Homo sapiens: one gene and its partner. The protein of the gene in region 1 purifies or fractionates together with the protein of each later gene. This does not show direct contact. Each region holds a gene or a part of one and is shown in the gene's direction. Other genes may lie near its edges. The genes, in order: SLC9A5 and PRKAB1.

Region 1 (15,370 bases):
TGTCTCACTGCATCCTATGGGGTTTTTAAAAAACCTTTCTTATTCAAAATTCCAGTAGAACGAATAAAATAACTCATATTTATCTATCAACCAGCACTGAAAAATCAGTGCATGATCAATTCTATTACATTCTGCAGCCCTACCACATCCCTCCCACACTTTATCTTAAAACAAACTCCAGACATCGTATCACATCATCTCAAAATATTTCAGTATGTCTCTCTAGGTGGCAAGAACTCTTACATCCAGTCAGTATTCAATAAATATCTTTTCCCCGCTGGATGTTCAAATCAGGGTCTAAATAAGTCCACACTTAGCATTTGGGAAATATGTCTCTTCATTTAAAAAAATCTATAATAGTTCTTTTTCCCCTCTCTATCTCCCTTGCTATTTATTTATTGAAGAAGCTGGATACTTTCTCTTGGAGAATTGCACATTTTCTAGATTTTGCTGACTGTATTCCAGTGGTGTTGTTTAACATGTTCCTCCGTTCCCTATATTTCCTGGTTGTTAAATCTAGAGGCCTGATCAAATTCAGGGACATTCAATAGGTATGCTATATATTTTCTGTGGTGTCACATCAGGAAGTACATAATGATTTGGTGAGGTGTGTGTGTGTGTGTGTGTGTGTGTGTGTGTATGTGGTGTTTATGTATAAGATTGGTCAATGGGTTCAGTCCAATCGGTTCATGTGTAGTCTGTTTTTTAAAAATCTGGAATAAGTTTGTGTGTATCCTGTTAAATGTCATCTTATTTGCTTTAGCCCATCATCCCATTGTTTGGTTCCCATGTCTGCCACCAAATGTCTCCTTCTTAGATTCATATCATCTGAAAATTTGTTAAGCCTGTTAACTTTGTATTCATCCAAATCCACATAAACATGTTGAACAGGATAGAGCTGAGGACAGAGCCCTGTGGCATGCTACTAAAGACTTTCCTCCAGACTGACATGGATCAAGCATTTTTGGGGTATGGTAACTCAACCAGTTCTGAATCCACTTAGTATGATAACACAATCCACAATTTCTCATGTTCTTCATCGAAATATCATTAGAGAGAGACAGAGATATCTAGTTTTCAGTTAGAAAGATAAGATTATAGTTTAATAGAGAGATAAGGGCTGGAGAGAAATTTGGAAGCAATCTGTATCAGGTTTTGTCACCTGGCTACCACAGAATCCCCTGGGGAACTTCCTGGCTTCACCTGGAGATTCTGATTCTGTAGTCTGGAGTGGGACTAAGAATCTGTGTTCTTACTAAGTTCCCCAGGTGATTCAAATGCAGCTGGTCTGATGACTGATGTTGGGGGACCACAGATCTGTATCACTGGGATAGCTGGGGCAGAGAGAATGGATAAGTTCTCTGAGGAGAGTGTTTCATGGGGCGGGAGGAGGGCTAAGGATAACACTGAGGAGTGCGCATGGGAGAAAAGGAAAGAGAGCCAAAGACAAGGAACCCTTGGAGAAGCAGTGGCAGGTGGTGCCTCAGGCCTGGGGCAGAAAGAGGGCTGGATGCTGCGCAGAGGCCTGGCCAGCACCTAGGCAGAGCCCACAGCACTGGTGACCAGCAAGAAGGCAGCACTGTGGAGTTGTGGACCCTGGAGTTGCATTTCTGGTTTTTAAGGAAATAGTGGGTAGGAGAGAAAGTGTCAGAATCAAATTATAAAAGTGTAGCAGCAAAAGGGAGACAATGGTGTTCAAGGGAAGACTTTCTTTAAGGAGGCAAGGGCAGGAGCTTGAAAACAGAGGGGAGGGAGCCAAGTGGTGAGGTAAGGAGTGAAGATACAGGAGAGTGGAGGAATAGGAGGCAGCAGGAACTGCTGGAGGCAGGAAGGAGGGAACTGAGCAATGTGGAGGCCGGGGCTGGGCAGCAATGAGCCTTGTGAAGGAGATGGACCCCTTCTCCCCAGGAGAGAGGGTACCTCCTGGTGCATAGGTAGATGAGGAGGGCAGATGGAAGACTTGAAGGGGGCTCTTAGAACTGGTTCAGGGAAGCAGAAAATATGAGATAAAGGGACCAGACTTGGGATTTGAGGCAAGATAAGATGATTTGGCAGGCACTGGGAAGCATTTCAGGGGATTACCACTAGATGATGAAAAGGTGCTAAGCAAGGAGGGTAGAGGCAGAGGCAGTCTAGGTGAGTGTGTAGCGGGCTTGGTGTTGATAAGAGTTAAAAAGAGCATGGCCAGGCGCAGTGGCTCATGCCTGTAATCCCAGGACTTTGGGAGGCCAAGGCAGGCAGATCACTTGAGGTCAGGAGTTCGAGACTAGCCTGGCAACATGGTGAAACCCTGTCTCTACTAAAAATACAAAAATTGGCCGGGTGTGATGGCAGGCACCTGTAATCCCAGCTACTCGGGAGGCTGAGGCAGGAGAATTGCTTGAACCCCAGAGGCGGGGGTTGCAGTGAGCAGAGATCGTGCCATTGCACTCCAGCCTGGGTGACAAGAGCAAAACTCCGTCTCAAAAAAAAGAAAAAAAAAAGCAGATGATGGGGGTGATCCTGAATTATTGGGACTGAGAAGGTCCAGGGTGTCAGGGGAGATAGTTATGAAAGTTCAAAGTGCAGCCCAGGATATCATGGTGGTTCTTGTAGAAATGGCTAGATAGGAGATTCCAGCTGGAGAAAGGATCCTGTGTAGCTAGAAGGGGGCAGGTAGGCTGGGTGTGTGGGCGAAGCTCAGATAAATGGAGGTACAAAGAAAATGTCCCCCATGTTGTCACAGTAGTAGAACAAGACAGAGGGTCACCTTCAAACCAGAGAGAATCGGGAAAGGATGGCAAGGGTTGGGGAAGGCCAGGTTTGGGGGAATAAGTTCTGGGATAAAGGGAAGCTTTTCCCAGGGAACTGAGAACACAGGGTCTCTGGCTGGGTTCCTGTTGTATTTTTTGTTTTGTTTTTCAATCCATTGTTAATTCTGGAAAAGCTGGGCTGGCAGGTCCTGTGGTGAATATGTTGGGGCTGTGGCCTGGGGTTCTTGTGGGAGGCCAAGGCATCCATCCTCATAGCCAGGCGGGGCTGTCATTGCCAGTACAAAGCCAGCTGCAGTCGCCACTTCATCTCAGAGGATGCGCAGGAGCGGCAGGACAAGGAGGTCTTCCAGCAGAACATGAAGCGGCGGCTGGAGTCCTTTAAGTCCACCAAGCACAACATCTGCTTCACCAAGAGCAAGCCACGACCCCGCAAGACTGGCCGCAGGAAGGCATGTCTTCCCTCAGGGACTCCTCTTGGGAGCTGGAGGCTGACAGCAAGCAGTTTTGAGCCCCCTAGTGTTAGGATCCAGCTTAGGGGGAACCCCAGTTGGGACAGTCCTCAGGGGCTTGATGACTACAGCAGTTTGGGTTCCCTTTTAGATGTTCCTGGAGTCCCAGAAGGGTAAGGTGAGACCTTCAGAGGGGGAGCAGCCTCTTGGCCATGTGGTCACCTGCTGGGAGGCAGCAGGGCCGCCTACCAAAGATGAAAAAGGCAGGAGAAAAGGAGATTCCTTTGAGGGGCAACTCCATGAGCTCCTAAGTCAGCCCACGCTGATGCATCCAGATTTCTTACTGGGGCATGGGTCACTCTTGCCTGGTTGGCCAAGGGATGGTAGAACCACTGGGACTGACATAAATTCCCTCCCCTGCTGGGTTAGGAAAACTTGTCCTGTTGACCCCACCAGATGACAGGGTTGGGGTGGGAAGCCGGGGCCAGAGGCTCAGGTTTTCTTTCTTGGTCCTCAGAAGGATGGTGTGGCGAATGCTGAGGCTACAAATGGGAAACATCGAGGCCTGGGCTTTCAGGACACAGGCAAGCAGGGAGCAGTGTGGGATTGAGGATGGGAGGGAGGAGGGAAAGGGCTGGGGCTTGCCAGCCAGAATCCTGGAGGACCCGCTGTAGGGTGCATTCAGCACCGTGACCTGGGGCTCTTCCTCCAGGGACTTGATTTCCAAGTTGGAAATGTTCAAAGCAGTTATTAGACAATGCGTGACAGGAGGCATCTGATTGCTAACTATGGGTTACAGGCCCCGAGGACTTGGAAAATGTGTCATGGAGATGGGGGAGTTTGGTCTGGGCCTTGGAGGATGGGTGGACTCTGGGGCCCAGTGTCCTGTCTGCAAAGCCAATTTTGTTTTGTTTTTTTGAGACAGAGTCTCACTCTGACAAGCTAGAGTGCAGTGGTGCCATCTCGGCTCACTGCAACCTCTGCCTCCTGGGTTCAAGTGATTCTTCTGCCTCAGCCTCCCAAGTAGCTGGGATTACATGTGCACGCCACCACACCTGGCTAATTTTTTTTTGTATTTTTGGTAGAGACAGGGTTTCGCATTGTTGGCCTGGCTGGTCTTGAATGCCTAACCTCAGGTGATCCGCCTGCCTCAGCTTCCCAAAGTGTTGGGATTACAGGTGTGAGCCACCGCACCTGGCTGCAAAGCCAGTTTTGTATGAGCTGAATGTTAATGGGCCTTCCAGCAATCCAAGTGCTCATGTTTCCAGTGGATCGTGGGATTTGGGGCTGAAAGAAGAGGATGGGGGAGCTGGAAAGTGTGGTCCTCATGACTTCCTCCGGGGACTTAGCTTCCTCTGGTCGCTTCCTTGGGCTCCGCAATGTCAGTTCTCTTCCTCCCAAGTCCCCACCTCTTAGGCCAGTGCTTGAAACAGCCAGAGGAGAAAGCAAGTGTCTCTGCCAACGTGTGTTCTGCCTAGGGAGACAGGGAGCTGGCTTGGGGCTGTGTAGTCCCAACAGGCAGCTGCCAGCCCAGGATGCCTGACTCTGCTCTTGTCTCTGTCCAGCTGCTGTGATATTAACCGTGGAGTCTGAGGAGGAGGAGGAGGAGAGCGACAGTTCAGAGACAGAGAAGGAGGACGATGAGGGGATCATCTTTGTGGCTCGTGCCACCAGTGAGGTTCTCCAAGAGGGCAAGGTCTCAGGTAATGGCTTCCTCCCTGCCCACCTCCCCTCTGGAGCAAGCTGGTTTCCTCTCTCTTCACTCATGGCCTCTACTCCAGACAACTCCCTTTTCCTATTCACTAGTTTATTCATCAGCCAGCATTTGCAGAGCCTCTTCTTCATACCAGATGCCCGACATAGGTAATATTCAACCCTCACAACAACCAAGATGGGGAAACTGAGCTTAGAGAGCTTAAGAGACTTGTGACTTGTCCAGCATCACATAGTAGAACCAGAATTTGAACCTGACTCATCTGACTCCCAAGCCCACAGCCTTTCTTTTTTTAATTTTTAAATTTATTTTATTTTATTTGAGACAGAGTTTTGCTCTTGTCATCCAGGCTGGAGTGCAGTGGTGCGATCTCAGCTCACTGCAACCTCTGGCTCCCGGGTTCAAGCAATTCTCCTGCCTCAGCCTCCCTAGTAGCTGGGATTACAGACGTGCACCCCCACGCCTGGCTAATTTTCATATTTTTAGTGGAGATGGGGTTTCACCATGTTGGCCAGGCTGGTCTTGAACTCCTGACCTCAGGTGATCCACCCACCTTGGTCTCCCAAAGTGCTGGGATTACAGGCGTGAGCCACCATGCCCGGCCTATTCTTTTCTTTTTTTTTTTTTTTTTAAATGCCATTCTTGCATTGCTATAATCTTTTTTTTCTTTTTCTTTTTTTTTTTTGAGACAGGATCTCACTCTGTCACCCAGGCTGGATCATGGATTGCACAATGGCATGATCATGGCTCACTGCAGCCTTGATCTCCAGGGCTCAAGTGATCCTCCCACCTCAGCTTCCCGAGTAGTTGGGACTACCGGTGTGCACTAGCACACCCAGCTGTTGTTTTTTTTTTTTTTTTTTTTTTTGCTACGGGGTTTTGCTCTTGTTGCCCAGGCTGGAGTGTAATGGTGTGACTCAGGTCATGGCAACCTCTGCCTCTCGGGTTCAAGTGATTCTTCTGCCTCCGCCTCCCGAGTAGCTGGGATTACAGGCATGCGCCACCACACCCAGCTAATTTTGTATTTTTAGTAGAGATGGGGTGTCTCCATGTTGGTCAGGCTGGTTTCGAACTCCTGACCTCAGGTGATCTGCCCTCCTCGGCCTCCCAAAGTGCTGGGATTACAGGCATGAGCCACCGTGCTCAGCACCCAGCTGATTTTTAAAAATTGTTTGTAGAGATGAGGTTTCACTGTGTTGCCCAGGCTGGTCTCAAACTCCTGGCAGTCTTCCCTCCTTGGCCTCCCAAAATGCTGGGATTGCAGGTGTCAGCCACCGTGCCCACCCACACCCTTTCAAGGCCATGCTGCCTCCCTTTGTAGTCTAGTGAGGAATAGGAGGTGGTGAGCAAACCATGGGCTCTGTTGAGACCCATGCCCTCAAGTAGATCCCCAGGTGAAGGTGGCAGCCTGACCTGGAGGAGCAGCCTGAATTCATCAAAATGGAGTTATTGTGGACAAAAATACAGTATATAAGCATTTTTCTGTATGTATAGAGACCTAATTCACTCATATTGTTAGTATCACTGGTGGTTGGCACCCTCAAGTGTCTTTAAACATTTTTTATTATAGAAAATTTCAAAATATACAATGATAGAACTATAAAATAAACTCCCATCTATCCATTATCCAGCTTCAATAATTACCTACTCATAGCCAATCTTATTTCACCTAAACCTCACCTATGCCCCACCCTCCACTGGGTTCCTTTGATGCAAGTCTCAAATATCATATCACTTTATCAATAAATACTTCAGTACATGTCTCTAAAATATAAGGATTCTTTTTTTTTCTTTCAAGATGGTCTCTCTCTGTCACCCAGGCTGGAGTGCAGTGGTGCGATCATAGCTCACTGCAGCCTTGAATGCCCCGACTTAAGCAGTCCTTTTGCCTTAGCCTCCCGAGTAGCTGGGACTACAGGCACACACCATCATGCCCAGCCTTTTTTTTTTTTTTTTTTCTGGTAGAGATGAGGCCTTGTTATGTTGCCCAGGCTAGTCTTAAAGTCCTGAGCTCAAGTGATCTTTACTTCTCAGCCTCCTAAAGTGATGAGATGAAAGGCGTGAACTACCATGCCCAGCCAGATAAGGATTTTTTTTTTTTTTTTTTTGAGTTAGGATCTCTCTTTGACACCCAAGCAAGAGTGCAGTGGCCGGATCATGACTCACTGCTTCCTCAACCTCTTGGGCTCAAGCCACTCCACCCGGCCTCAGATAAGGATTCCTGATGCATGCCTCTAGTCAATTGACCCCAGGAGGCTGAGGCTGCAGTGAGCTATGATCACGCCACTACACTCCAGCCTGGGCAACAGAACAACACTCTGTCTCTTGGGGAAGAAAAAAGGATTCTTTAAAAAATATGTAACCACAATGCCTTTCCCATATCTAAAAATCTGTCATCAAACATCGTTCAAATTTCCCTGATTATATATATATATATATATATATATATATATATATATATATATATATATATATTTTTACAGTAGGCTTGTCCAATGTCCCTTTTAACCTATAGCAGTGATTCTCCAGGGGGATGGTGGTGGAGTGATTTTGCTCCCCCAGGGGACATTTGGCAATGCCCAGAGACATTTTTGGTTGTCACAACTGGGGAGGATGGCCTTGGATGGAGGGGTAGAGGCCAGGGATGCTGCTAAACATCCTACAATGAACAGGACAACCCTCACCAGCAAAGGAGTAGCTGTCCCAAAATGTCAAGTGTCAACTTTGATAAACCCTGATCCATAGTTTCCCCCAAACCCCCTACTTTTTTTTCTTCACGATGTATTTACTGAAGAAACCTGCTTATTTGTCCTACAGTCTTTCTCTGTCTGGATTTTGTTGGTTGCATCCCCAAAGTGTCATTTAATATGTTTCTCTGTCTCTTAAATTTCCTTTAAACCAGTAAATCCACAGGCAGTGGCTCACACCTATAATTCCAGCACTTCGGGAGGCCAAGGTGTGCAGATCACCTGAGGTCAGGAGTTTGAGACCAGTCTGGCCAACATGGTGAAAACCTGTCTCTACTAAAAATACGAAAAAAAAAAAATTAGCTAGGCATGGTGGTGGGCACCTGTAATCCCAGCTACTCTGGAGGCTGAGATGGGAGAATAGCTTGAACCTGAGAGGTGGAGACTGCAGTGAGCTGAGATCGTGCCTCTACACTCTAGCCTAGGTGACAGAGCAAGACTCCATCTCAAACAAACAAAAAAACAAAAAACCTCGCCTCATCAATTATTTGGTTACTTTGAGGTACAGTTCACCCAGTAAATGCTTGATTCTTTCATTTATCAGTTTTCAGACCAAAGAATTCATTCCCTAGCAGCCTGTAAAGGTGAATACCAAAGGTTTTTTGTTTTACACTTTTTGTTGTTGTTATCGCATTTTAATATTCCAGGTCTTTCAAGAGATACCATTTTACTTTTAATCATAGCATCAATACATTTCACACATGTACTCAAACAGAAGCTTATTGGGCTGCTCAGGACTTTATCGATGAACAGATACAGGCTGTACTGTACTTTGGAGAGCTGGGGTGGTTGGTGGCCAGAGGAATTCTCTTTCCAGGTTTCCTCCTTCAGAACCTCAGATTTCCTGTAATTCAGCCCCGCCCCTGCAGTTCTGGGATTCTTAGCTCAGGTCCCCTATGCCTCGTCATCCCCTTTGCGGCAAAGCTCTGGCCTGCTGTTAGGTTTGCATGAGCTCACACTCCTGGGCTTTGTCCCACCAAAGGGCTGTGGTGGGTACTCAGGCAGGATGCTCAGCAGAAAAACCTTTGGCCTGTAGCCTCCAGGTCTTTCTTTCCCTCTCTGGTGGCTGGCGTTTCTCCCTCGCTGGTTGGCTGGGATGGGGCTTGGCAGGAGGCTGTTTCAGAGACCAGTGCTGCAGTAGGGTGAGGGGACTGGAGATGGGGCTTCCTGCCTGGCTCCTGCTTTTGCTATCTTCTTATTTTTTATTTTTATTTATTTTTTATATAGAGTCTCACTCTTTCACCCAGGCTGGAGTGCAGTGGCGAGATCTCGGCTCATTGCAACCTCTGCCTCCCGGGTTCAAGTGATTCTCTTGCCTCAGCCTCCCGAGTACCTGGGATTACAGGCGTGTGCCACTGTGCTTGGCTAATTTTTGTATTTTTAGTAGAGACAGGGTTTCATCATGTTGGCCAGGCTGGTCACTAACTCCTGAGCTCAGGTGATCCACCACCTTGGCCTCCCAAAGTGCTGGGATTACGGCATGAGCCATAAGCCAACTTTCCTTATTTTCGTTTCTTTGATGAAAATAATGTTCAATTTCTTGAGCAACTACTGTGTGCCCGGCCCTGTGCTAGGTGTTGGGGATAGAGTGGAGAGTAAAACAAGCTGTGGTACTTCGCCTCAGCAAGACATTCATCCGATAATCGCAAAAATGGACGGCATATGGAAACTGTGGCATGAATTTATAAGAATGTGCTTATACTTGAGATTTCCACTGTATTGGTAATGAGTTCATGTGTACTCTCTGTCCCCAGGAAGCCTTGAGGTGTGCCCAAGCCCACGAATCATTCCCCCCTCCCCAACCTGTGCAGAAAAGGAGCTCCCCTGGAAGAGTGGGCAGGGGGACCTGGCAGTGTACGTGTCCTCGGAAACCACCAAGATTGTGCCTGTGGACATGCAGACGGGTTGGAACCAGAGCATCTCATCCCTGGAGAGCCTAGCGTCCCCTCCCTGTAACCAGGCCCCAATTCTGACCTGCCTGCCTCCCCATCCACGGGGCACTGAAGAGCCCCAGGTCCCTCTCCACCTACCTTCTGATCCACGCTCTAGCTTCGCCTTCCCACCGAGCCTGGCCAAGGCTGGCCGCTCTCGCAGTGAGAGCAGCGCTGACCTCCCCCAGCAGCAGGAGCTGCAGCCCCTCATGGGCCACAAGGACCACACCCATCTCAGCCCAGGCACCGCTACCTCCCACTGGTGCATCCAGTTCAACAGAGGCAGCCGGCTGTAGCTCAAGGCCTCGGGGAGGAGCAGGAGGTGGAATCCCTGTGGGAAGTGCTCCCTGGGTGATGGGTAGAGCCCTCGAAACTTGACATGGGGCCAGAAGGGCCTGGGTTGAAGTAGTAATTGGGCTTCCTTGGAGCTAGTCAGAGGGGTCACCTAAGCTGGTCCTCACAGGGGCCTTTCTCACCACCTCCCTGCTCCTAACCCCTGCCACTTTCTGTTTCATTAAGGCCTCTACTCTGGCTCAGGACCCAGTCCAGGCCTTCTACGGGCTAGGCCCAGAGACTTGGGTTGCTGGTCCCCCTTCCCTAGTGGGTTTTCCCGGGGACTCTATAGGCAGCTGCTCCTGCCCGCAAAGCAAGAGCATCATTCCTATTCTTCAGTGGATGCCAGCCTTCCCTGCCCCAACTCCCTCCCCAGCACTGGGTCAGTGGTGTCCTGGCAGTGAGGCTCCGTGAGGGGCTGGCCCTTAGAGGAACTGGGGTGGGAGGTGGGGCAGGCCTCACCCTTGGGCTTTGCTGCCCTGTTGGGTCAGCTACCCATAGTCCATTTTTTTAGGGCAGTGGGAACCTCTGCCTCCACTTCCTGCTTTAGCCCCTTCCCTTTGCTGCCAGGTATTGGGGTAATATTTCCTCCTTTTCCAAGACCAAGGCCAAGAGGCTGGGCCAGGCTTCAGTTCAGGCCTGTTGCTTAACTGGGGTCACCCTGGGATCTGCTGCTCTGGGTCTAAGTCTAGACCTTTCTGATCCTTGGGTCTGGGTTTTTTGAGGAGGGGACATAGTGGCCTCTGGGCTGCCATGTCACCACCTGAACATTCCCCAAACAGAGAAGGAACCCAGCATCTCAGGGCCACTGCTCCATTGCTCTGGGGGCTGGGATGCCTGGCTAAGCAGGGGCTGACAGGGTGGCAGGTGACTTTCTAGGGATCAGCACCTGCCCTGTGTTTTGTACCTTGAACCTAAGATATATTAAACATCTCTCAGATGGATGGGTGTCTTGTGTCCATGTGTCAGGGGGTTCTTAGGGTGGGGGGCAACAGGGGCATCTGGTGAAGGAGGTGAGAACCCAACTGCCTGCCCCAGGGATTGAGAATGGAGGGGAATCCTAGGCAGGACTATTCATCCTTCTGGTCCCCTGTCATGCATTCCCCAATACTTTTCCAATATTGTCCCCTTAGCAGGGGTCCTGCAGTGGTGGTCAAGGGGATCACTGTTTTGGCATCGAGTCACAGAACTAAAAGTCTGCAAAATGAGAAAGGCTAGCAGGGAAAGACCCCAGAGGTCAGGTGCCAAGCTGTCCTGATGCAGCCACCACACACCTAGGACCAGATGAGCATTTCTTGAAAACCTGGATGCAGGTACAGGACACATGAACAGAGGTGGCCTTTTGCACATGACAGACAGGAAGGCAATCTCAAGGGCTCACGGGATTTGGTTACCGTGTTTATTTTTTATTTTTGGAGACAGGATTTTGTTCTATCACCCAGGCTGGAGTGCAGTGTCACAATCATAGCTCACTGCAGCCTGGAACCCCTGGGCTCTAGGAATATTCTCGGCACAGTCTCCCAAGTAGCTAGGACTACAGGTGTGTACCACCATGCCTGCTAAATTTTTAGTTTTTGTTTTTATTATATTTATTTATTTTTAGAAACAGGATCTCACTCTGTCACCCAGGCTAGAGTACAGTGGCATGATCTCGGCTTACTGCAACCTCTGCCTCTTGGGTTCAAGCAATTCTGCCTCAGTCTCCTGAGTAGCTGGGACTAGAGGCACATGCCACCATGCCTGGCTAATTTTTTGTATTTTTAGTAGAGACAGAGTTTCACCACGTTGGCCAGGCTGGTCTCGAACTCCTGACCTCAAGTGATCTGCCTGCCTCAGCCTCCCGAAGTGCTGGGATTACAGGTGTAAGCCACTGTGCCTGGCATATATATATATAATTATATATAATATATATAATAATATATATTATATATTATATATTAATATAATATATAATATATATAATATATATTATATATAATAAATATATAATATATAATATATATTATATATAATAAATATATAATATTATATAATTATATATTATATAATATATATTATATATATTATATAATATATATATTTTTTTTTCCTGGAGGTAGGGCCTCACAATGTTGCTCAGGCTGTTCTTGAACTCCTGACCTCAAATAATCCTCCTGCTTTGACCTCCTCAAGTGTTGGAATTACAGGTGTGAGCCACCTCACCTGGCCATCTCTGAGTGTTTATGATGCAAATCAGATAGTGTGGGGTCCAGAAACATGAATAGAAATCCCTAGATGGCCGGGCACAGTGGCTCATGCCTGTAATCCCAGCATTTTGGGAGGCCAAGGTGAGTGGATCACCTGAGGTTGGGAGTTCGAGACCAGCCTGACCAACATGGAGAAACCCAGTCTCTACTAAAAATACAAAATTAGCTGGGTGTGGTGACACACGCCTGTAATCCCAGCTACTCAGGAAGGCTGAGGTGGGAGAATCACCTGAACTCAGGAGAATAGCTTGAACCCAGAAGGCAGCGGTTGCAGTGAGCCGAGATTGCACCATTGCACTCCAGCCTGGGCAACAAGAGCAAAACTCCATCTCAAAAAAAAGAAAAAAAAAGAAAAAAAAGAAATCCCTAGATAAGAGCAGTCCCAAATCCAATTCCCCTGGTGTCTAAAGGACTTAAAACAAAAACAAAAACTTTGGCCCAGCACAGTGGCTCACGCCTGTAATCCCAGCACTGTGGGAGGCCGAGGCAGGTGGATCACCTAAGGTCAAGAGTTCAAGACCAGCCTGGCCAACATGGTGAAACCCCATCTCTACTAAAAATAACAAAAATTAGCCAGGCATGGTGGCGCTCACCTGTAATCCCACCTACTCGGGAGGCTGAGGCAGGAGAATGGCTGGAACCCGGGAGGCAGAGGTTGCAGTGAGCTGAGATCGTGCCACTGTACTCCAGCCTGGGGGGCAGAGAGAGACTCCATCTTAAAAAAAAAAAATCTTTGAGAGCTGGGCACAGTGGCTCATACCTATAATCCCAGCACTTTGGGAGGCCAAGGCAGGCGGTTCGCTTAAGGCCAGGAGTTCAAGACTAGCCCGGGCAGCATAGCAAGACCCTGTCTCTACCAAAAATCCAAAAAATTAGCTGGGCGTGATGACTCGCAACTTTAGTCCCAGCTACCCAGGAGGCTGAGGCACAAGAATAGCTTCAACCCGGGAGGCGGAGGTTTCAGTGAGCCAAGATCGCACCACTGCACTCTAGTCTGGGTGACAGAGCAAGACTCCATCTCAAAACACACACACACACACACACACACACACACACACACACACACCAAAAAAACCCCATATATATATATATACACACACACACATACACACACATATATACACACGCATATATATACGCATATATATACACACACATGTATATACACATATACACACATATATACACATATACACACACATATACACATATATACACACACATATATACACATATATACACACACATACACACACATATACATATATACACACATATATACATATATACACACATATATATACATATATACACATATATATACACATATATATATATATATACACACACATATACTGCACTGCACTGACTAGAGTGCAGTGGTGCGATCTCGGCTCACTGCAACCTCTGCCTCCCGGGTTCCAGCCATTCTCCTGCCTCAGCCTCCCGAGTAGGTGGGATTACAGGTGAGCGCCACCATGCCTGGCTAATTTTTGTTATTTTTAGTAGAGATGGGGTTTCACCATGTTGGCCAGGCTGGTCTTGAACTCTTGACCTTAGGTGATCCACCTGCCTCGGCCTCCCACAGTGCTGGGATTACAGGCGTGAGCCACTGTGCTGGGCCAAAGTTTTTGTTTTTGTTTTAAGTCCTTTAGACACCAGGGGAATTGGATTTGGGACTGCTCTTATCTAGGGATTTCTTTTTTTTTTTTTTTCTTTTTTTTGAGATGGAGTTTCGCTCTTGTTGCCCAGGCTGGAGTGCAATGGTGCAATCTCGGCTCACTGCAACCGCTGCCTTCTGGGTTCAAGCTATTCTCCTGATTCTCCCACCTCAGCCTTCCTGAGTAGCTGAGATATATTTGAGATATAAGTCACATACCATAAAAATTCACCCATTTTAAGTGTACAGTTCAGTGTTTTGAATATACCCATAGGGTTGTGCAGCCCTTACCACAATCTAAGTTTAGAACATTTTCATCATCCCCCAAAAAACCCTGTACTCATTAGCAGTCAGTCCTCATCCCTGGCCCTCCTCAGCCCTAGGTAATAACTAACCTACTTTCTGGCTGTCTGGATCTGAAGGACTTTTGACACACTTGGAAGGTTATACTTTTAGCCAACTTACCTTTACTTTTTCTGCATTATGCGCAGGGAAGGTGTGATGAGAAGGAAGAGTGACTTGGGCTTTGCCCTTAGGTTGTTTACAGGCCACAGTGATAAGGCCTCGTAGTTAACTAGTCGTCAACAGTTTATTTTTTTAATTTTTATTTTTTACTCTTTTTGAGACAGTCTCAGTCAGGTCACTCAGGCTGGAGTGCAATGGTATGATCTTGGCTCATAACCTCTGCCTCCCAGGTTCAAGCAATTCTCCTGCTTCAGCCTCCCAAGTAGTTGGAATTACAGGTGCCCACCACCATGCCCGGCTAATTTTTTGTATTTTTAGTAGAGACAGGGTTTTGCTATGTTGGCCAGGCTGGTCTCGAACTTCTGACCTCAGGTGATCCACCCGCCTCGGCCTCCCAAAGTGCTGGGATTACAGGCATGAGCCACTGCGCCCGGCCGTAGTCAACAGTTTAGAGTCAACAGCCCCAGCTGTCACTCACAAGTGTCATTCTGGGTGTGTTACATGCTCTCTCTGAGCCTCAGTGTCCTCATCTCTCAAATGAGATAATCATACTCACTTCATAAGGCTGCTGTCAGGATTAAATGACAAAATTTAATGGGAAGAATCTACCCAGGGCCTGGCTCAAGGTAAGGGATCATAAATGTCATTATTTGTCGGGCCGGGTGCGGTGGCTCATGGTTGTAATCCCAGCACTTTGGTAGGCCAAGGCGGGTGGATCCCTTGAGGTCAGGAGTTTGAGATCAGCCTGGCCAACATGCTGAAACTCCATCTCTACTGAAAATACAAAAACTAGCTGGGCATGGTGGTGCATGCCTGTAATCCCAGCTACTCTGGAGGCTGAGGCAGGAGAATCACTTGAGCCCAGGAGATGGAGGTTGCAGTGGTGGGGGCAGATGAACATGGTGGGTTTGACAGGGAGGCAGGCAGGTGACTTGGATGCAGGAGAGCAAGTGCGTCAAGCGCTCATCCATGGGTCCTTGCCATGTGACTGGGCAGGGTGGCCTGAGCTGAGAGAACTTGGCTGGGGTAGTCTTCGTGAAGGAGATGCTGCACCCAGGCCTCAAATGAGGAA
Region 2 (15,625 bases), on another chromosome or scaffold:
CTTTCAGATTTTTATTGAGTTTTGTAACAATAAGAAACATGGTTGGGAAATTGATGCTCTTTTGAAAAAAAAGAAAAGAAAAAACAAACATGGATTCGTAGTTAGAAAATTTTTTATTTTTTTAATTTTTATTTTTTAAAATATAATAAAGATGGGGTCTCGACAGCTTGCTCAGGCTGGTCTTAAACTCCCGGACTCAAGCTATCCTCCCGCCTCGGCCTCCCAAGCTGCTGAGAGCCACTGCATCTAGCCTAGAAAATTTAATAGATATTAAAACAATTGAACACCTAGTTTGTTCTCCCTCTCTGAATGACCATTCCAGCTTTATACTTATAATCTAGATCAGCCCAATCCATTGGCCCACCCAAAATGATTTCATCCCTCACTCAATGATCTGTCCGTGGTGGCTAAAATGTTGACATCTGTCTGGTTGCCTGCATTTGAATGCTGGTTTCATGACTTTCTAGTTGTGTGACCTCGAATAAGTCACTTCATCTCTCTGAGCCTCATTTTCTCCTGAAAAATGCAAGTGGTAATAATAGTAGATCCCTCAAAGGACTGTTGGTGGCATTACATGAGTTCATACATCAAACACAATGCCGAGTGCATAATAAGGATTGATAAACAACTTTCACTTTAACACCTACAATCTCCAAATCTCAACTTGATTGTCACTTCCTTCAGCAAGCCTCCTCTGACCTCAGGACTTGGTCACATCCTTCTCACTAGGTCACACTTCTCCTTCTTAGCGTTTGTCACAGAAGACTGTTGGATGATTGTTCGATTAATTTCTCTCTTCCCTACTAGATCGTAAACACTCAGGACAGAGCCTGGGTTTGATTTTGCCCACAATTCTCTCCCCAGTGTCTACCACAGTGCCCGGTGGATAGGAGTTTTTGCCATGAAAAAGTTATTGATAAAGAAATGAATTAATGCAATTAGAAAACTGAAGGCCTCTGAAAAAATCAATATTAACTAGAACAAGTGCCATGAACTAGTTAGGTTCTGATGGGCTAGATGACATGAGTCATGAGACACTTACAGGGAAGGACAGGGTGCGGAGAGGTTTATTTTGTAAGACAGTTGCAGAAAATAAATTGGAAAAAAGATAAACTGTACACCTCTACCATTTGTTCTAGGACTAACCCTATTTTCTTTGAGGTAAAATTCATACAACATAAATGTTAATTTTAAAGTAGACATTTTTAAGTGAACAATTCATAGGCATTTAGTACATTGACAATGTTGTGGAACCACCATCTATGCCAAGTCTTAAAACATTTTCATCATTCCAAAAGAAAGCCCTCATTCCCTCTTCCGCCAAGCCCGTGGTCACCACCAGTCTGCTTTCTATTGACATGGATATATCTATTCTGTATATTTCATATAAATGGAATCATATAATATATGACCTTTTGTGTCTGGCTTATTTCACTTAGCATAATGTTAATATTTTTGAGGTCATCCACATTGTAACATGTAACAGTACTTTATTCCTTTTTGTGATAGAAGAATATTCCACTGTATGAACATACCACAATTTGTTTATAATTCATTTTGTTATTGTTGTTACAGAGTCTTTCTCTGTCGCCCAGGCTGGGGTGCAGTGGCACAATCTCAGCTCACTGCAACCTTCGCCTCCCAGGCTGAAGCAAGTCTCATGCCTCAGCCTCCCAATAAACTGGGATTACAGGTGTGCGCCACTACAACCAGCTAATTTTTTGTATTTTTAGTACAGATGGAGTTTCACCATGTTAGCCAGGCCGGTCTCGAACTCCTGGCCCCAAGTTGATCTACCCACCTCGGCCTCCCAAAGTGCTAGGATTACAGGTATGAGCCACTGTGCCAGCCTACAAACTCATCTCTTGGTGGACATTTGGATTCTTTCCACCTTCTGTCTATTATGATAATGCTGCCGATCCCTGTTTTTTAAAAGTCTCCATGGTTCATCATATCAAGAAGAATGATAATCTCACAGTACCCTGGACCAGAAACCAAGACATAAGATCCAAATTATGATCTATGACCACTAACTTTTTCTATAATTCAGCAAGCTATTGTCCCTCCTCATCTGTAACCTATGTGGTTGAACTAGGATTTTCATGCAATTAGTGTGTCTTGGGAGGTGTTTCTGAGTATTTATTTGGAAGGTGCTCCTAAAAAGAGATAAAGAAAAGGAAAGGAAGATAATCAATGAATTCCTTGATCCAATTACTGCTGTGGACATCTAGGGTGCATTTCCACTGGGGACCTCTGAGACACGGTAGGGAATATATCTTAGTTATACGAGAGCTAAAAAGAAATTATTTAGACAGTTAGTGAGGGTAAGAGAGTCCTCAGTAAGGTTTTTCTTTTAATAAAAACGCAGTCTCCAAATCATTTCTTTTTTTAACAAAAAGCAGCCTGAAAAATCAAGCTGCAAGCATAGATAAGCAAGCTAGAGGCTTGCATAGGTAAATACCAGCAGCTGTGCCAATAGAAAACAGATAGCTGGAAACCAGGTATATTCAACATGGAGGTTCCCTCTTCCCTTTTCTTTGTTGCCACGTGTGCAGATAACATGGCACCAGCCAGGTTTTTTAAAATTCCATTTGCATAATAAAAGATTAGAGTGGGATGACCAGCCTCTTCACGGGCTATGAAAATGGCACATCTGGTCCAACCAATCCACTACACCCCATGTAAATCATATACCATCTCCTCACGCTCATCCCTAAAACCAACCACACCTTGCCCCAAACCAGGGAAACCCACTCAGGACCCCTTCTTCTGCATGAGGAAGCTCTCTTCCTTCTTTCATCTATTTAACTTTCCACTCTTAAACCCACTCCTTGCATGGCCATGTCTTCAATTTCCTTAGCATGAGACATCGAACCTCGGGTGTTACCCCAGAAAAATGACGCTGCTTCATTAGAGTTAGCACATCCAAGGGGCAAGGGAACTGGCTCCTCTGTGGTTGGCTGAGGGCTTCTCTCAGGGTGTCTTCTCTGGTCCCCTTGGGTTCCCACTTGTGTCGACAAAGCTTTCTCCAGAAGGCCCTCAGAGTTGCACCTGCTCACAGTTAGGAAGTTTGGGGCATGCGCAGAAGGGCACATGCAGATGGGGTATGATGGTCCCAACAGCATATGTTAAAGTGATTATGAAACTTTGATATTCAAATCCCTGGGAGCTTACATTTTAAAGAGATGAGACAGAGACAGACTTCCTCTCATTGTTTTCACCTCCGTTGGATCTTTGCCTGGATACTGCTTTAGTTTGTCACTTGTCCTCTAGAAAAGGGGTAGAAAGTGTACATCCTTTTCTCCTCCATTCCTTCAAAGCTCTTAAAAGAGGATAGAGATGCCAGGTGCAGTGGCTCACACCTGTAATCCCAGCACTTTGGGAGGCCGAGGAGGGTGGATCACCTGAGGTCAGGAGTTTGAGACCAGCCTGGCCAACATGGTGAAACCCCGTCTCTACTAAAAATACAAAAAGTAGCCAGGCGTGGTGGGGTGCGCCTGTGGTCCCAGCTACTTGGGAGGCTGAGGCAGAAGAATCGCTTGAACCCGGGAGACGGAGGTTGCAGTGAGCCGACATTGCACCACTGCACTCCAGCCTGAGTGAAAAGAGTGAAACTCCATCTCAAAAAAAAAAAAAAAGAGGATAGACTTGAGGTGAACTTTATTAAGAACATTGTGTTACCTTGAACTGGGCACTTCTCCCTTCTAGGTTTCAGCTTACCCTGTGAGTGAAGCTATTTATTTAAAAAAAACTTTATTGAAAATAAAATAAAGATACAGGAAACTACACAAAAGAAATGTATGGCTTAGTAAGTTACTACAAGGCAAACATGTTAATAATTACCAACCCAGGTCAAGAAACAGAATTTTCTCAGACAACCTAAAAGTCACAAAATGAGGCTATTTGCCAATTAAGGTTGTAGACCAAATGCTGTAGAATGAACTTCTTTTAATTCTATGTTGATGACTCTCTGTCACAATATTCACATCTCAGTGCAAAGAGAACACAAGAATGTCTAGCAAGAAAAGATGGACAAGTTTCTCAAACATTGGCAGTGTTACTTACATTGGCTAGGCAAAATTCAGAAGGCCTGGTGGAAATCTGGTTAAGCCCTAAAAGTAAGCTTGTAATTCTATCCTAGCAGCCCACACACATTTGAGTCTGTCTTAGTCAGCTCAGACTGCTATAACAAATCATCAACTGGGTGGCTTAAACAACAGAGATTTACTTCTCCCAGGTCCGAAAGCTGGAAGTCTAATATCAGTGATATAATTTGGATACTTTTCCCCCTAAATCTTACACTGAAATGTAATCCCATGTTGGAGGTGAGGCCTCCAACATGGTGGGAGGTGACTGCATCATGGAGGTGGACTTCTCATGAATAGTGTAGCACCATCGTCTTGGTGCTGCCCTCACAAGATCTGGTTGTTTAAAAGCGTGCGGCACCTCCTCCCACTTTTTTTCTTACTCCCACTCTTGCCATGTGATACATCAATACATCGGCTCCCCCTTGGCTTCCTGAGGCCTCACCAGAAGCAAGCAGATACCCAGAGCCATGCTTGCTGTACAGCCTACAGAACCATAAGCCAAGTAAACCTCTTTTCTTTATAACTTACTCAACCTCAAATATTTCTTTATAGCAATACAAGAATGGCCTAATACAATCAGGGTGCCAGGATGGTTGATGTGTGGTGAGGGCTCTTTCCCTGAGTTGCAGATGGCCGCCTTCTTGCTTTGTCATCACATGGCCTTTCCATTGAGCATGGGCGTGAATAGACAGCATGCGAGCAAGCTCTCCAGCGTCTCTTCTTCCCATAAGTACCCTGATCTCATCATGGGGGCCCCACTCTCATGAGCTCATCTAACCCTAATTACCCCTTGAAGGCCCCACCTCCAAACATTATAAAATTGGGAGTGGGAGTGCAAATGTATGAATTTTGGGGGGATACAATTTAGTCTACAGCATAGTCCAAATGTGAAATTTCTTCCTCCAGCTACCGATGTTTAGTGAGAACACTGCCTGTTCTCACCACATGTGCATATGTGTGTGGACTCTTTCCTCTGGAGGGCAAGAACTTGGTTTTGTTCACTGTTGTAACCAAGAGTTACAACAGTGCCTGGCTCATAATTGGCACTCAATATTGCCATTGAGTTATTTGTGATCAGAGCCCTGGCTGTTCTTAGATGGGGAGGGTTCTTCAGAACAGTACAAATGTTTGTAGACAGGCCAGCTGGGGAACCAAAGGTCTTTTTGATGAGGTGCCATGACCATGATGTAGTGGGGAGTGGCCAGGTGATCCAGAATTCAGTCTCAGTATGACCTATGATCATCTGAGTGACCTCAGGCAAAACTGTTCGATCTCTGGGACTTAGACTCTTCCTTATATAAAACAAATGGGTTGGTCAGTTCAGAAGTGCTATACTGATTCTAATCCATCCTATGGAGGAGGCCCCAAAACATTATCCTTAACCCTTTTAATCATAAATTTAAGGATAAATGAGATTTTATCTCACTCTGGGTGACTTTTAAGGACTTGAAAACCTACTTCTTTTTGTGCTTGGAGCTGGAGTGAATTTGAAGCCAGGGTTGCGGGGGTGGGGGAGGGGTACTCCTAGCTGTGGCTGTGTTAAAATTGCCCTGGTTTGTTTGGGGGAGAATCTAGGGTATTTATCATTTGTCTTTGCCCTGGTGCCAGACAGACAGCAGTGAGTAGATGATGCCTTTTACACAGCAATGTGCTAACAGTTATACTTCCTGGCACACCTCCAGCCCCCAAGATGGAATGGTCTGACATCCATATCAGCAGAGAATCAGAGAAAGATGAGACGCTCTGATGCTTAGGAAAGTCACAAACCATTGTTACACAGATAAGTAACACAAAATGACCCAAGAGAGACACAGCTGGGACCCAAGTAGACACTTGTAATTGGCGAGTCTACCCTACCCATGATTTTCAATATGGGGTCAATAGCTGATAGATACCAATGTTAGTTTCTTTGTCATGAAATCTTGATACAATGTGGTAAGAGTTTCCAATCAGCAGTTGGTGGCATCCTCAGGATATTGTTGATTGTATTTGACATCAAGGGCCACCCATGCTTTCACTGTTATCTTATTCAAGCTAGTGCAGATGTCTTAAAACTTTCTTCATGCATCAAAGCATCTGCATAGCTCAGATAAAGAATCCACAGCTCATGTGTTCTTTCTTATCTCTCCGGCTGTTTGGGAGAGATTTCAAAACTCAACACCCCACTGTCTCATGTAACCAAGTCAGGGCCACTATTAGAAAAGCAGCTCAAAGAAGATATCCTGGGTCATCCACAGTATCTTAGCTTATTTAATTCAGCAAGCACATTCAACATTTCTGATTATACTGAATACATTCAAATTCTCAGTCATCAGCTTCAGGAAGACCCTCCTGGCTCCCATCCCTTTTCCTGGCTCCCATCCCTTTTCCTGGCCTGGCTTAAGTCCCTTCTGGGCTCCCACAGGATCCCTTACCTAGCTATATTATTGCTTTTCTGTGGGTCGGTGCCAGCCTGTACTGTATTAATTCCTTTGGGGCTGGAACCATATCTTATTTTTTTAAATTAAAAAGTAGTACATCCTCACAATAGAAAACTTTTCAAATACAGAACTATATAAATGAAAAGTGAAAGTCCCTTTTCTGTCTGCTCCTATTTGCAATCTCCCTCCTCTCCCCACAGAAGACCACTATTAACAATGTGTTGTATACCCTTCCAGAACTTTCCATTTGCTAGCCTAATAGTGCTAATAAAAGTGTTAACAGTTATTGAGTGTTTACTAAGAGTCAAGTGCTATGCTCAGCATTTTTATGCACGTTCCCAATTAATTCACAAAACAAGCCTATGAAGTAGGTGTTATTTTTGTTCCCATTTCACAAAAGAAGAGACTAAGGTGACAGTTACTAAATGGTAAAGCCAGAATCTGAACATGGCCAGGCTGAATTCAGAGCTCCTGCCCTTGAACTTGTTCTCTCACTTGCTTCCGGACCTTGCAATATCATAGACACTTCCCCATAGTGACCTAAAAATGGTTTCTCCCTTTTTAAAAGTTGCTTGGTATTCTACAAAATGAATGTATTCCATTCATTTTGCCATTCTCCTACTGAACAACTTTTAGGATTTTGTAGTTTTTCATTTCCTTATTTCACCAAGTGTAAGATTCCATTATTGTAAAAAGCATCCAGTTTCAGAAATTAAAATATATGGGGGCATGGGGGGTGACAAGTGCATCTTAGAATATATTTTTGCATGTAAATATTTTGTAGATAATGCTTGTAAATAATTTTCATGTGTGTATTTCTGCACAAGTTTCCTAGGAGTAAAATTGTGTGTCAAAATGAAGGTGCATTTTTAAATTTTGATGCATACTGCTGAATTCCCCCCAGGAAACCTTATCTTAGTCATCTTGTGTTCCTCATTTCCTTAGCACAATGTCTGGTACTTTTTTAGGTACTAAATAAATGTTCAGTGGGTGAAATGCATGACCTGACCCGGCAAATGCAAAGTATTTTGAGATATTCACACACCAAAAAACCCACAAAATATGACAATGACTGACAATGAGAAGATGAGAATATTTTACTACCGTATTTGTATGCACTTCTTGTTGAAGCACTGACCAGAGTAAATGACAAACGCTAATGCATCTTATGCAGAAGGATGTTTCCGAAGTGATTACAAGATATCTTGCAAAATTACCTATCAAAAGATTGCACACTCAATAAAAATACACGAATAACTCCAGCATTTTACAACCCCCAACCTACTAGACATAAGAAATTTCCAGAGATCTTATGGTCTGCCATTTTTTCAAATACCTGCAAGACTGCCTGCACCCCCGACCCTAATCTGTAGAAATCATGATTCTGCAGGTCTGCAGTGGGGGATGCATTTAACAAGCGCTCCAGGTTAACCTAATGCACTGTAAAGCGTGAGAACACGTGCATTAAAAGGGCTTTAAGAAGTGGAGTTTCTGAATCAGATTTGCATTTTAGAAAGATCCCTCTGGCTGCAGAGTGTAGAATCAACTATAAGTGAGCAAAGATAGCTAAATGGCATTATTCAGCCCAGCGCATGAACGGCTCAGATTGCCCGCGCGCTGGGGTGCCCCCTGCCGGCCCTCGGCAGCGCCTCGTCCTGGGCCTGGCCCTGGGCGGCCGGCTGCTGACTGCGACTGCGCGCTCCGAGGCCTGCAGAGACGGCCCGGGGCACCTGTTACCGCACCGCTCAAGACCGGAAGCGGAAATGGAATCGAGATAGCCTCGCGCGTTTAGCTGGCCGCCGCCACCTCCACGCCCTAGGCCGGGCCGACTTACGGAGTCGCCGGAAGCGGAAGTCGCTGAGGGGTGGTGAAGCGGTTGGGAAAGTGTCGGTTTATCTTCGCGCCCCTTGCGTTCTTGCCGCGGCTTGCCTGGGCAGGTAAAGCGCGATTGCGAGAGCTCGGCAACCCTGCCGACTCAGCCGGAACCGGCTCCCGGCCCGAGGGGCGTGGTGTCCTGGTGCTCCGACTCCTTCCGCAGGCTCCTTGGGACCCGCGGTTCCGGGAGTCCCTTGCTCAGGGTCCCTTTCCTGCAGTGAGGCGCCGTCCGCCTTCCCTGTGTCCCCGCAGACCCCCATCATGGGCAATACCAGCAGTGAGCGCGCCGCGCTGGAGCGGCATGGTGGCCATAAGACGCCCCGGAGGGACAGCTCGGGGGGCACCAAGGACGGGGACAGGCCCAAGATCCTGATGGACAGCCCCGAAGACGCCGACCTCTTCCACTCCGAGGAAATCAAGGTGCGAGCGGTGTGGAGGAACCCGATTCCCCTTGACTAATGTTGAGGAGAGGAACCCTCCACTAGATTCCCGTCACATCCTTTCGAAAAACACCAGAACGGAGAGGGAGGTGGTACATTACCCGGTGCACTTAAAAGCCAGATGGTCCTGTAAGAGTTCTCTTAGCGGTCCAAGAACCTGTGTCTAATTACCAATATGAGAAAGTCACCCTGAGGGAGGAGGTGCTCACTTGGTTTAACATCATTAAGGAGAAAGCAGCTCTGGGACAGAGTTTCAAATTCTTAATTAATTCAGAGTCGAGCTAACAGTAATTGAGCCCCAGCTTCTGCTTTTCTCTTAGGTGTAATTAATTGCACTGCTTTGAGACAAATTCCCTCACCTTTACACAAACTGGAGCTTTTGTAAAAGTTAGTTTGGGAATTTATCCATTTTGGAGGCAAACCAGGTACATATACAAGCTGAAAGTAGAGCGGAACAGCTGACGGCAGTTGCCAGAGGTGTTTAGTTCTGCCCAACACTTTTGATTCACCCTACTTATTTTTTAAAAGACGGTGGTCTCACTAATTAGCCGGGCGTGGTGGCGGGCGCCTGTGGTCCCAGCTACTCGGGAGGCTGAGGCAGGAGAATGGCGTGAACCCGGGAGGCGCAGCTTGCAGTGAGCCGAGGTCGCGCCACTGCACTCCAGCCTGGGCGACAGAGCTAGACTTCGTCTCAAAAAAAAAATATAAATAAAAATAAAAAAGACGGTGGTCTCACAATGTTCTCCAGGCTGGTCTCGAACTCCCGGGTTCAAGCAATCTTTATGCCTTGGCCTCCCAAAGTGCTGGGATCGCAGGCGTGAGCTACGGTGCTGGCCGGTTCAGCCTACTTTTTTTTTTTTTTGAGACCGAGTCTCGCTCTGTCGCCCAGGCTGGAGTGCAGTGGCGCGATCTCGGCTCACTGCAAGCTCCGCCTCCTAGGTTCACGCCATTCTCCTGCCTCAGCCTCCCGAGTAGCTGGGACGACAGGCACCCGCCACCACGCCCGGCTAATTTTTTATATTTTTAGTAGAGACGGGGTTTCACCGTGTTAGCCAGGATGGTCTCCATCTCCTGACCTCAGGAGATCCGCCTGCCTCGGCCTCCCAAAGTGCTGGGATTACAGGCGTGAGCCACTGAACCCACCCTACTTATTTTTTTTTTTTCCTTCTTTGAGATGGAGTCTCACTCTGTTGCCCAGGCTGGAGGGCAGTAGCACAATCTCGGGGCACTGCAACCTTCGTCTCCCGGACTCAAACCATCCTGCCTCAGCCTCCCGAGTAGCTGGGACTACAGGCGTGTGCCACCATGCCTGGCTAATTTTGTGTATTTTTGGTAGAGGTGGGGTTTCGCCATGTTGCCCAGGTTGGTCTTGAACTCCTGACCTCAAGTGATCCGCCCGCCTGGGCCGCCCAAAGTGCTGCGATTACAGGCATGAGCCACCACTCCCGGCCTCACCCTGCTTTTTTTTAAAGCGTACATAGAAAAGTCTTTCAGCTTCTAGAGGTCAGTGGGCGGTGAGGGTCTGTCTGAAGGAGGCAGCCAGCAGCTACTGAACTTCTCTCTAGTGTTGTTTAAATATGACTTAATCGTGCTTAAGCAGGCCAGTGCAAACATTTTTCTTCCTGCTGCAGCCTGTTTAAATTCAAAAACTCAGGTGACTTAACTCCTGCTTCAACCACACTCCTGTTAACCACCTTCATATGGTGGATATTTCCAGCCGCAGGGCTCAGTCCAAGGACACTTAGTGATTCTGGCAGCTGGTATTTATGTGTTATGTCCAAAAGGAACTAATTGTTTCAAGGAACAAAGTAGGTTTAGGAAAGATAAAGCTGCCCTCTGCCCAACATACCCTGTTAGTATCCAATTTCATGTTAATCATCATCCATTTAATTGCTTGGCAGCTCATTCCATCTGTGTTTGTCCTCATGTTGAGCGAGGTGATCACATCTCACACCTTCTTTTGGATCTTAGTTTTGAGCCTGACTACAAAGAGGCTGCTTTTATGTGGCCCTACAACCTGTGGTTTGAACTTGCTCTCTGAATTTGTTGCATTCTTGAAGAGCTGTGTGCAAAGTGAACTTTAGAATCATGTTTCTCTAATGACTTGACGTCCTTTCCCCAGGAGGTAATTTTGGTCCCTGGTCCCAAGAAGGCTATTTAAGACACCAAAGGAATCAAAACTACTTTCTTCAGAAGTATTTGTTCTGTTACTATTCCAAAACTCCTCCAGGAAATGTTGAGCACACACATCATCTATGGGGAATGATTTCAAGCAGCGTCCATTCTCACTTCATTAGAAGTTACTGAAATCCCCAGATACCAAAAAAGTCGTGAATTCTTTTAACTACACTAGGGTGCTATTTTGGTCATAATTAGTTATCCTTAGTGTGAAGTGATTCCAGTCTGTTATTTAATATGTAGATCTTGTTAGAATTCAAAGAATACAGGCATCATTTGGATAAGCTGAGGTCGGTATTTGAGATGAAGGTGCTAGAAGCCTGCTTAACTCCCTGAAGAGTCTTTTCCAGCCTGAACCTTCTGCTCTTTTTAAGTCTTTGGCTTCTGACTGGGAAAAAATCTAAAAGGTGCATGACTACATATGTCATCCAGATAGATTTGGATGAGTTTATTTCTTATTCTGGAATACCTCAGTTATACGGAGCTTACCACACTGGAGGTTATCATTTATCCTAATGAGGGTTCAGTCTTTGTCTTGCTTTATTCCCCAGTCCCTAGACAGAACTTTGTGAGTAGTTTTTCCCTTCCTCAAAATCTGGATTTGCCTATTTTCAAGTTGACAGCTCTAGAATTGTTCCTCTTAAATTTTCATGTACAGTCATACATCACTTAATGACAGGGACATATTCTGAGAAATACATCATTAGGTGATTTTATCATTGTGTGAACATCATAGAGTGTACTTACACAAACCTAGTCTGTTCTCATGCTACTATGTAGAAATACCCGAGACTGGGTAATTTATAAAGAAAAGAGGTTTAATTGACTCAGTTCCGCATGGCTGGGGAGGCCTTAGGAAACTTACAATCATGGTAAAAGGCACCTCTTCACAGGACGGCAGAAGAGAATGAGAGCAAGCAGGGGAAATGCCAGATGCTTATAAAACCATCAGATCTCATGAGACTCACTCACTGTCAGAGAACAGCATGGGGAAACCGCCCCCATGATCGATACCTCCACCTGGTCCTGCCCTTGACACGTGGGGATTATGGGGATTACAATTCAAGGTGAGATTTGGGTGGGGACGCAGAGCCAAACCGTATCACCTAGTCTATATGGTGTAACCTGTTGCTTATGGACTATAAACCTGTACAGCATGTTATTCTACTGAATACTGTAGACACTTATTCCACAAGTATATTTAAGGATTTGTGTACTTAAATGTATCTAAACATAGAAAAGATAACAATAAAAATATGGTATAATCTTATGGGACTACCATATACACAGTCCGTCGTTGACTAAGACATCATGCACATGACTGTACTTCAAATCTTGCTTGATTAAGGGAGGAACATGACATTAAGCTAGTCTTGGATTCGTAGTAGCCCCTTCCAAGTGTGTTTCATAGCTTCTTCTAGAATTTTGATGTCAACTTCTTTAATGACAACAATAGCTAATAATTAGCACTCACTGTGTCAGACACTATATAGAGCACTTACATGGACTGTCTCAGTCTTCACAACCTTAAAAAATATATTTCTATTTTGCAGGCAAGGAAACTGAGGCACCACTAGTAAGTTTCCGATCCTAACCATGAACCAAGATAGTAACAGCTGCGTCTTTAGAATGAATTGTCAATATTGTCTGTTGTAGGGAGCTCGCTTATGGCTTTCTGAGTAAACTGCTCTGCTTCTAGGCACCAGAGAAGGAGGAATTCCTGGCCTGGCAGCATGATCTGGAAGTGAATGATAAAGCTCCCGCCCAGGCTCGGCCAACGGTGTTTCGATGGACGGGGGGCGGAAAGGAAGTTTACTTATCTGGGTCCTTCAACAACTGGAGTAAACTTCCCCTCACCAGAAGGTAATTGCCTGGGGAGTGTTCACATATTTGTCTTAACATAAATTCTCTTCTTTCTAAAACATCTCTGAGAGAGAACAGAAAATGGATGTTTCTATAAAATGGATGCCTAGTGGAAAAATAATTTTGCTTAATAAGTCTTAAGGTTCAAATGTTAAACCTTGGTGGTCTCTAGGTTTAGAGTACAGAAGAAAGAGAATATTTCTGTGTCACAGACATCTTTCACTTCAGATCCTCAGCTATCTGTTCGGTCAGGACTTTTCCACAGAAACACAAAAATCTGTCTTAATGCAGTAAGGGAGCACTGGGCTGGAATCTTAGAAACCCACATTTGAGCCCACATTGGCCATGCTGTCAGTCACCTAACGTTAGTTAACCTGAGCCTCAGCGTTCGTTTCTGTAAAGAGGGAATATTGGACCAGATCATCTCTGAGGTTTCATCTAACTTTGACTCTGCGTAATACTTTGTTTGAAAAGTACATGTTGGCTGGGCATGGGGGCTCATGCCTATGATCTCAGCACTTTTGGGGGCTGAGGCAGGAGGATTGCTTGAGGCTAGGAGTTCAAGACCAGCCTGGGCAACATAGTGAGACCCCCATCTCTACAAAAAAATTAAAAATTAGCTGGACATGGTGGTGCACACCTGTATCCCCAGCTACTCGGGAGGCTGAGATGGGAGGATTGTTTGAGCCTGAGAGGTCAGTGCTGTAGTGAGCAGTGGTTGCACCACTGCACTCCAGCCTGGGCAACAGAGCAAGACTTTGTCTCCAAAAAGAAAAGAAAAATACATGCTATGTAGGTGTCATTAGCAAGGATTATAGTAAGACATTTTATCAGGAACCCCAGCATGGACTTCTGTCTTAAGTTGTCAGTGAGAGAACACCTTTAGTGAGTATTCTTGATAAAATGAGGGAGAAAGTGTCAGGCCTATTGTCAGGGGCTGCCTGCTTTCCAGCGTTTCCATTGGAGAAGGAGGGAGCCACTCAGCACAGCAGTCACAGGTCAGTTCAAGCCAGGGGACAAAACAACCCAGTGAAGGGGCTCTTCCGGAGTTTGGTTTTTCAGTCATTAGGCAAGTTTCTTTAGAGAACATTTGAGCTTCCTATTCAATTGATCCCTTCTCCTGCCCAAGGCAAAGTGACAAAGGGTAAAACGAGGCAGCTTCTGTTTATCTTGTGTTGTCATCCTCCTTGGCATCCAGGAGCCTTGCGAGCTTGAGACGCACAAATGCCTGACTGTTGACCTTTTAACATTAGGGATGTGGTTTCCTGGTATTTGAGTAAGGTGAGTTTTCAGGAAACTGTGTCGCACTGCTGCTTCCTTATAGCCTTTTCAGATTGAGGTCATTATGCTGAATTGTCTAAATGGGCTAAAAATGTTTGTTCTCCTGCAGCTGAACTCTTGGTTTTATGTGGAAACGTTTTGTTCTGTAGCTGGTTTGGCAAGTAAGCTCGGGGGGCAGCCCACCCCACGGAAGTCCTCTGCTTCCTTTTTCCTTGCAGCCACAATAACTTTGTAGCCATCCTGGATCTGCCGGAAGGAGAGCATCAGTACAAGTTCTTTGTGGATGGTCAGTGGACGCACGACCCTTCCGAGGTACTCTTCCTCCCACCTCTGGTCCTCTGGGTGCCCGCACATTCCAAACAAATCACCTTCCCAAGAGATTGCCGCTAGGTCCCTTTGCCCAGCTAGTAAAAGTCCCCGTGTGTGGCAGAGCTGAGTAGCAGCACTACCTGTCAGACAGTTGGCATACTTGACCAAGATGAGCAGGGTGGCTAGCCAGGAGATGAGGCCTTCCAGCCAGGAATTCCAAGTCCTCTGAAGAATAACTCCGCAGACCTTCCACGTTATGATTTCTGCCTATCTGTCTCTTCCCAGCCCATAGTAACCAGCCAGCTTGGCACAGTTAACAACATCATTCAAGTGAAGAAAACTGACTTTGAAGTATTTGATGCTTTAATGGTGGATTCCCAAAAGTGCTCCGATGTGTCTGGTATGAACACAGTTATTTTATACCACATGCGTGCAGGTGGGGGCTGTACAGTCTAGACATACTCTTGTTTCTCTTGCCTCTCTTGAGCTGAAGCTGCCCAGTCAGATAGGCATTTATAGCCCCCACTTAAAGGCCACAGAACTTAATTCCTGTCAGGTTGTTGAAATTTAGCCCTAAGGGAGCTACAAGTCATTTCCCTGGTCATCTCAGGTATTCAGTAGGTCTGCTTGGCCACAGAACGCAGACAGCAGAAATGGAACCATAGCTTGATCTCGTGCCAAGGGCAGGGCTGAAGAGGCCCTGGAGGGTGGCACTGAGTCAGTGACAGCCCAGCACTGGGGAAGCCTGTGTCTCATCCCACTTGTGGTGCCTGAAGAATTTCAGCCTGACAGGTGTAAATGGACACCTCAGTGACCTTAGCAGTCACTTATGTGGTACATTAGCACCTTGTCAGAATCCCTTTGGGGAGGATGCGGCTCCCCACGGGAAACAGCCTGCACAGCCCAACTCTCCTTGATGGGAAGCTATTTGGTACAGAAATACAGACCCAGTAAAACTTCTCCATCTTGTAAGAGCCTTTCAGGCATCGAGGTTTCAATAAATTGCTTTCCCTCCAAGCCCCACAGGAAGAAACTACCTGGAACATGATTCATACAGTTCGGGGGAAGAGGGTTGCGATCTAAAGTGTTCCCCTTCTTGGAGGCGGGGGCTTAACAATTCCTGGACTCTGAGGGAGGCAGTGGAAAGATGCCCTGGCAGAATATCTGGCGC

The links.
Region 2: the proteins of SLC9A5 (region 1) and PRKAB1 purify together in Homo sapiens (affinity purification with mass spectrometry; 2 studies listed by BioGRID and IntAct, with this or other methods). This does not show direct contact.

Annotation. Positions count from the first base shown.
Region 1 is NC_000016.10:67,261,321-67,276,690, forward strand, and holds the end of SLC9A5 (sodium/hydrogen exchanger 5 isoform 1 precursor), read left to right. Parts: intron 1-891; coding exon of another isoform or gene 892-948; exon of another isoform or gene 949-969; intron 970-1,074; exon of another isoform or gene 1,075-3,031; coding exon 3,032-3,202; exon of another isoform or gene 3,203-3,719; coding exon 3,720-3,786; exon of another isoform or gene 3,787-4,767; coding exon 4,768-4,905; intron 4,906-9,417; coding exon 9,418-9,890; 3' UTR 9,891-10,871; downstream 10,872-15,370. UniProt on the Homo sapiens protein: Plasma membrane Na(+)/H(+) antiporter. Mediates the electroneutral exchange of intracellular H(+) ions for extracellular Na(+) in 1:1 stoichiometry, thus regulating intracellular pH homeostasis, in particular in neural tissues.
Region 2 is NC_000012.12:119,659,601-119,675,225, forward strand, and holds the start of PRKAB1 (5'-AMP-activated protein kinase subunit beta-1), read left to right. Parts: upstream 1-8,532; 5' UTR 8,533-8,644; coding exon 8,645-8,803; intron 8,804-12,700; coding exon 12,701-12,864; intron 12,865-14,363; coding exon 14,364-14,457; intron 14,458-14,739; coding exon 14,740-14,854; exon of another isoform or gene 14,855-15,625. UniProt on the Homo sapiens protein: Non-catalytic subunit of AMP-activated protein kinase (AMPK), an energy sensor protein kinase that plays a key role in regulating cellular energy metabolism.